Linked DNA regions of Homo sapiens. The protein of the gene in region 2 interacts with the protein of the main gene of each other region in a pairwise test. Each region holds a gene or a part of one and is shown on either strand. Other genes may lie near its edges. The genes, in order: CDC27 and DCPS.

The links.
Region 1: the proteins of DCPS (region 2) and CDC27 interact in a two-hybrid assay, tested with the Homo sapiens proteins (one large-scale study listed by BioGRID and IntAct).

The regions. Positions count from the first base shown.
Region 1 is NC_000017.11:47,179,124-47,182,942, forward strand, and holds part of CDC27 (cell division cycle protein 27 homolog), read right to left. Parts: intron 2,515-3,819; coding exon 2,439-2,514; intron 1-2,438. UniProt on the Homo sapiens protein: Component of the anaphase promoting complex/cyclosome (APC/C), a cell cycle-regulated E3 ubiquitin ligase that controls progression through mitosis and the G1 phase of the cell cycle.
Region 2 is NC_000011.10:126,342,047-126,345,865, forward strand, and holds part of DCPS (m7GpppX diphosphatase), read left to right. Parts: exon of another isoform or gene 1-276; intron 277-1,260; coding exon 1,261-1,371; intron 1,372-3,300; coding exon 3,301-3,567; 3' UTR 3,568-3,819. UniProt on the Homo sapiens protein: Decapping scavenger enzyme that catalyzes the cleavage of a residual cap structure following the degradation of mRNAs by the 3'->5' exosome-mediated mRNA decay pathway.

The DNA.
Region 1 (3,819 bases), on a different chromosome or scaffold from region 2:
TAAATCTCGAGAGAAAGACAAATGGGCGACAAAGAACTAGTGAAACTGAGAAATTATTTCAAGAATTTGACTTACAGAAGATCCTACTGATCAACTGCTTTAGCCTCATGCCTTGTTGGATGTCTTTCTCCAAATATAGAAACTGCTACTAGTGACATAGGAGGCCCCTGAGCAAACAGGTTACATCTAGCATATCAACTGATATTGTCCACCAAGAAAACTGTTGCCAAGAATTCTGAGGTTGGTTCAGTGGGAATGAGTACTGTAATGGATTAGTGATGCCTACTATGGTTGCAAATCAGAGAAGTGGTAATTGCTACTCTTGGGAAAGCGGAATCAGACAGATTACTAGTTACCGCCTGTGGACATTAGTCTCAGTTCTTCATCCAGAAAATGGCAATAGCAATGTCTATTTGATAGGATTATTGAAGATTAAATTAGTAACTAATATTAAATACTTAGAGTACCTAGTATACAGTAAGAAATCAATAAGTGATAGAATTATTGTTATTATTACTGAGCCAGGATAGTATCTGCTCTTACTACACTTAATTCTAAAATCTTTCCTCATATAAATATGGTTAAACCGAATGGTGAGGTTCTATATTGAAAGAAACTAACATTTACTGAGCAACTTTCCAAGTGCCAAGCATTGTATCAGGTACATAAATAACGTGGATTAAACAGCTTTATGTGGACTAATCTGGGAATCTTGCCACCAATTCTATGGGAAAATCTAATTGAATTCTAAACCATGAATTTACAATTTTTAAGAGCCTAACTATAATAAACTAGAAACTGCCTATTCTTTAATAATAAACAAAAACAAAAAGGAAATACTAGAAATAGAAGACAGTGGCCGAGTACAGTGGCTCACATCTGTAACTCCAGCTCTTTGGGAGGCTGAGGCAGGAGGATCACTTCAGTCCAGGAGTTCAAGGCTGCAGTGAGCTATGATTGTGCCACTGTACTCTAGCCTGGGCGACAGAGTGAGATTCTGACTCAACAAAAATTTTTAAAAATACAGCAAAATATGGGGCCTGCCTAGGTATCAATGAAAATATTTTTAAATAGATTATTCACAATAAACATCACTTTTGCATAAGTGAATGGAGTAGATTAATCTATTGTATAATCTTCTTTCTAAGCCTTCCATTCCTTCTCACCTTTCTAATCTTTTCATTGGGACCTTAAACTCCTGCTGCCCAGATCTTCCTCACTTTTCTCACTGAATTCCCATTCTCCACCGAGGAGACAGCTCTCTCACATGGACAGTAATCACCTTACATCCCACTATCTCAGAGTCAAGGTAAGGCTGGTTTCCACTTAACTTCTCAAAACTACTTCCAAGCATTGCTCTTTGTCCTTTTGTGAAATTTCCTGCCCCTGAGGTTTAGGCCTTGTTCTCACAACTCTCAGCTACTAAACCCATACTGTTTGACTTGTAAATTCCATTTAAAAGTACATAACCCAAGGAAATGACTCAAAAAAAAAAAAAAGCTGTACACAATGATCTATATCAGCATCTTAGAAAGGGAATTATAATAATGACAGAAACAAAACATACATTATCAGTGGTGTTTATTAAGCATTGATTACCAAGCCAGATGGCTGTGCTAAGGGCTTTAAATAAACCATCTCATTGAATTTTTAATTCTAAGGGGCAATGATTATTTTATAGATGAAATATCTGAATTTTCAGATATTAAAGTAACTCGTCCAAGGTTATAAAACTGTACATTTAAGTGACAGGTTAGGATTTGTTCCAAGGCTATAGAGTCTAAATCCATGTTCTTCACCATAGAATACAGACTCTTTTCTTAAAAAAAAAAAAAAAAAAAAAAAATACATGGCATGGTGGCCCATGAGTATAATCCCAGCACTTTGGGAGGCCAAGGCAGGTGGATCACCTAAGCTCAGGAATTTGAGACCAGCCTGGGCAACATAGCAAAACCCTATCTCTACCAAAAAAAAAAAAAAAATTAGCCAGGCGTGGTGGTCCGTGCCTGCGGTCCCAGCTACTTGGGAGGCTGATGTGGGAGGATCGCTTGAGCCTGGGAGGTAGAGGTTGCAGTGAGCTGAGATGGTCCCACTGTACTCCAACATGGGTGACAGAGTGAGACCCTGTTTCAAAAAAAAAAAAAAAAAAAAAAAAAAAAAAAACCCAAAACAACAAAAACCCTGGGGGAAAAAAAAACCTAAAGATTGAAAAATGATTAAGTAAATCATAGCATATAAACCTGAATCAATTCTACATAGTTATTAAAAGTAGTATGTAAGGGAACTACACAGAAAAAAAGTAAAGATTTTATGAACTAGTGTCAATCAGAAAAACAACAAGATGATGATAGCTAGAATCTTGTTACAGTGATAAAAAGTTATGGAATTTCATATATGTTATTCATTTATCATTCTACAGCAATGAATAGATTTCAAACCTTCTGCATAAAGGCGTTCTGCGAGGAAAACCGCATCTCGGTAAGCATAGTGGTTTAGTGCTTGCCATATAGCAGCCTGCAAATGGAGGAAAAAGAACATAAATATACATACATACAGACTTTCAAGGTAACTACTAGCACACAGCCTTACATCAAATACTGAAATTAATATCCCTAATTTAAGTGATAAAACCCCAATGCCCACAGAGCAAACTCCAGAGTGTGCCGGGCAAGGCTCTTCACAGTATGGCTCCTAACATATCTGAATTTCCTCACTCAACTCTCTATGGACTTTTAGGCTTCTGTGCCTTTGTACACCCTTTTCCTCCATTGGGCAATGTGGGCTCCCCTCACCAGTCTCCCCTTATAAACTGCTCGTCCCTAAAGATCCAGCTTAAATAACATCTGCCCCATAAAGCTTTCCTGGCTGATGTCAAGCCATTTCTTTTTTAAGATACCTCTTCTAGTAGAGCACTCATAACATGGTTATTTGTTAACAGGACTGCCAACCCTACTAAACTACAGACTTTTAGCAGCAGTGGTTCTCAACCACTTTATGTGATATACATGACAGAGATATTAAAATGTATGTCATCCTCCCACAAAAACTTCCCTATCTATTACCTTTAATGCCACTCAATTCTCATCCACTCCAGGAAGCATATTGGAATGCAAATGAGTAAAGTTATCATAGGAATAACTTTTAATTTTTTGAATATATGTTTTCTCTTTTAGAATTACAAAACATATAACCTAAAGTATATATGAGATAGAAGGACATTTTAAGTAACAATAACCAAAGACATTTAGGCCCATGTACTCACCACCCAGCTTAAGAAATAAAATATCTCTGAAACTCCCTGTGTGTTCCTTGTTGATACCAAAACCTCTCCCTGCCCCAAAGAGGAAACCACCACACTGAATTTTCTTGACCTTTCTCTTGGTTTTCTTCACAATTTTATACATTTGTACATATCATCTCTAAGCAGTATAACATTTACTTTTTCCTGTTTTTGAACTTTAAATAAATACAATCATATTGTATACATTCTGCTACGATTTGCTTTTGAAATCCAATGTTTTGAAAATTCATTCTTGATGTGTGTAGCTAGAGTTCATTTGTTTTCATTGCTGAATAAATAATATTTCCATTGTATAAACATATCAAAATCCAAAATGTATTTTATCTATTTTACAGCATGTGGACATTTGGGTTATTTCTAGGGTGTTTTTTTGTTTTGTTTTGTTTTTCCAATTATAACAATGCTGCAACAGTCTTAGATTCATCTCCTGGGGTATATATTTAAGAATCTCTCCAGCCTATCACGGTGGTGTGAGCCTTTAGTCCCAGCGACTCAGAAGGCTGAGCTGGGAAGACTGC
Region 2 (3,819 bases):
TCTTCACAAGGAATCTGGTAGCTCAGACTGCAGGGCAGGGCACTGCTGGGTTCTCCCCGTGCCTGGCCCCTCAGAGCCTTGATGTCTGGGGCCTTCCAGGCGCATGGATGGAATTACCAGGCAAGGCCAGGGTTTAGGTGAGCAGGGTGGGTTTTCTCAGCAAGAGGAAGAGTTCATTTGCTCTCTGGCACAAGATCTTGACTTTGATTCTTTGTACTGTTGTGACCTCCAGGTTTTCAGCCAGGTTGTGCTCAGGAAGGACAGCAGGAAGGTATCCTGTGCGATAGGGGAAGAGAGAAACAAGCTAACTGCCCTGGTGTTGTGTGTGCTGCTGAGCTGGCCCTTGGCTCCCTTCTCAGCCTTCAGACCCCACTCCACCCCTTCATGGGCCTTGACTCCAAACAAATCAAGTTGCTTCCTCTCCCCTTCCGTATACATTCTATGCCCTATACATTCTTGCCTCCGAGTCTTTGCTCTGTTTCCTCTACCTGAATACCCTTTCTCCAAATTCTACCTTTTTTCTAGACCTGATCCTCTGCCTTCTCTTCCAGGAGGCCTTCCTGGGTTCATCCAGGTAGCTAGAGTCTTTCCTTCCTCCTGCACTGGGATTATTTTGTGTCTTACAGTAGAGCTACTTGCATACATGCGATAAGACTGTAAACTCTCGGAGGGAGAGAGTTGCCCTTGCTCTTTCTTGAACCTCCTGGCTCCCTGCCCCGACAGCTCTGGGGAGTGAGCATATAGAACTCTCTGCTGGGCGCGGTGGCTCACGCCTGTAATCCCAGCACTTTGGGAGGCCGAGGCAGGCGGATCATGAAGTCAGGAGTTTGAGACCAGCCTGGCCAATATGGTGAAACCCCATCTCTACTAAAAATATAAAGAGCATGGTGGCACGCACCTGTAGTCCCAGCTACTTGGGAGGCTGAGGCAGAAGAATCGCTTGAACCCAGGAGGCGGAGGTTGCAGTGAGCCAAGATTGCGCCACTGCACTCCAGCCTGGGCGACAGAGCGAGACTCTGTCAAAAAAAAAAAAAAAAAAAAGGACTCTCACATGGTATTCTCTAGCAAGAAGCGTACACAGTAGGCCTGCTCCTTAAGACCATCCCACACGCCCGGGGTATGCAGATGCCCTGCGGGGTTTCTCCTGGTGCTGTAGGCCTCAGGGGTGGGTGCTTCCTGGCTTACGTGAGAACTCCAGGGTTGGCAGCCTCCCCAGGTCTGTTCCCTGCTGAGCCTGGTCTCCCCTTGCTCTCTACGCAGCTCGATGACTTGTACTTGATCGCCATCTGCCATCGCCGGGGCATCAGATCCCTACGCGACCTTACTCCGGAGCACTTGCCGCTGCTCAGGAACATCCTCCACCAGGGGCAGGTGAGTGGCTTCACCAAACCACGTGGAAGCTCAGAGAAATTAGACTCAGATTCCAGTGTGTTCCTGGGCCCCTTTCCTCACCTTTCCCAGAGTCCATCTTGGAGAGACTTCTCTCTGGATGCCAGTCTTGGGGACCCCATTAGGCTCTTGAGGTTGAAGAGCAGGGCTCTTTGTCCCTGGTCCTGCCACCTTTCCTCACCCTCACACGCCTTCCTCGGCCTTTCTCCATCTGGGATGCACTTCCACCCCTCACCCCATAGACTCTGGTCCTTAAGTCCTGGCCCCTCCTACTCCAGGATCACCTGTCTCTCTCATGACAACCATGACAACCACATCATGCCAGAGTTTCTTGGGAGTATGGGCACATGACTTCGATATGTGTGTACACGTGTGTCTCCTTGTCTAGATTGAAGACAGGCTGAATTCTGTAGCACCTGGTGTTCTGGGATACTTTCTCTCTGGGATATTTGTTGAATTGAATGAAATTATCGGGGCTCTAAACAGAGCCCAGGAGCACGGGGAGATGGGGGAAGAGTGTCTAGAATCTTGGGTGTGGTCCTGGCCTGACATTTGGACCCTAACCAGCTGAGTGGCCTGGGGCAGGTCACTTCACCTCCCTAAACCACATTATCTAGATGGATCCCTTCTAAATCCACCATCCTAAGGGGCTGGGTCTGAGTCTTTTTTCCACTCTGAAATGTGATGCTCTGCCTAACACGCCAGAGCTAGCAGTCACAACGATGCCCAGCCAGGAGAGAGGTTTGCCCCTTTTTGACCAGTGATGCTTCGAGGTGTTAATGCAGACCTGGAGGCAAGGCTCTGCCCATACCCAGCTTCCCCTGCTGCTGGGCCCCGATCTATCTTCCCTCCTGCTCACCCACGGCACCACCCCTTGGCTGCCTTTATCTTTGTGGGGTGACTTGTTCAGATCCTGAAGCAGTCTCTGGATATTACAAATGGCAAAGAATGGTGTCTTTCTCTTGGGGAGATGCCAGGCCAACACTTTGACCTGCCCTAGCAGCTCAGACAGCTCCACCCTGGCAGACAGACCTCACTTACTCCAGGAAGCCCCTCGGGTGCCTTGGCCCTGGTCTCGCCCCGCTGCAGGGATTCCTGGGGTGAGCTCCAAATGCAGAACACAGTTCTGGGGTATATACTGAGCCCACTGAGGCCCTAGTACTTTTCTCTTCACCTCTGACCACCTCAGGGATTTGCCCACAATGGAGATGAGAGTCTCCGCTTAATTCTATGCCTCACAGCCTCCTGAAGGTGGAGGTTGGTAGAAAAAGACCCACCCCTGAGCAAGGTGGAGGTGGGCAAAGGGAGCCAGGGCCAAAGTCAATGCTTTCCTCTTCTGCAAGGAGCCCGCTGAGACTTCGCCAGGTCTGTGTGGGAGCAGCCCCTCCCATACCCCTTCCACAGTCCCTGCTCTTTCACCAAGTTCTCAGCATAGCCCCATCCCCAACTTCATTGTTTCCAAGCTCCACCCTGTGCTATGCTAAAAGAGAGAATGAGGCTTCCTCCCATCCACTTCATGACTGATGAAATGCTTCTAAATCATGAAAGTCCCCATAGTCTTGGGAATCTGGGGCCTGTCTGTAGACACTGGGCCTTCCAAGATTCCCAGCAGCAACTGTTTGAGGAAGCCAGTGTTTTTTCCACGTTGGGGTGGGGAATGCTGATTGAGGCCGCTCCCCACTTCTTTTGGGAGAGTCTCAGCTTTGCTGCTGTCACCTGCACTTGTGGATTTCCTAGACTAGAAGACAGAGGAAGCTGAAGCAGACAGCAGGTAGAGAGCTGTTTGGAGGGTTTTTGTGAGCTGTCCCAGGCCAATCCAGGATTCAGATGGGAGGAGGGTCTAGGTGGGGACATGGCGCCGGGCCTCAGGCAGCACGGTGACTCCTGACCTGCCTGCCCCTGTCTCATCAGGAGGCCATCCTGCAGCGCTACCGGATGAAGGGAGACCATCTGCGAGTATACCTGCACTACCTGCCCTCCTACTACCACCTGCATGTGCACTTCACCGCCCTGGGCTTCGAGGCCCCCGGCTCAGGCGTGGAGCGGGCCCACCTGCTGGCTGAGGTGATCGAGAACTTGGAGTGTGACCCTAGGCACTACCAGCAGCGCACGCTCACCTTCGCCCTCAGGGCTGACGACCCCCTGCTCAAGCTCTTGCAGGAGGCTCAGCAAAGCTGAATTAACTCAGGCAGAAGAGCACAGATGTGTGGGATTGGGGGAGGAGTGGGGACAAGATTTTTTATCTCCAAGTGAATTTTCTAAAAATGTATTTTATACCGGCTTATTCCTAGTATTGAATAAACTAGCGGGCTCACTCAGTGTGGACAGCGTGGCCTGGGAGGCAGACAGATGGTGGGGGACAGTGGGTGGGTAGAACCTGTGGGAAGGCCTTGAGAATGGTGGAAAGTCTCCAGGTGGTGGTTTCAACTG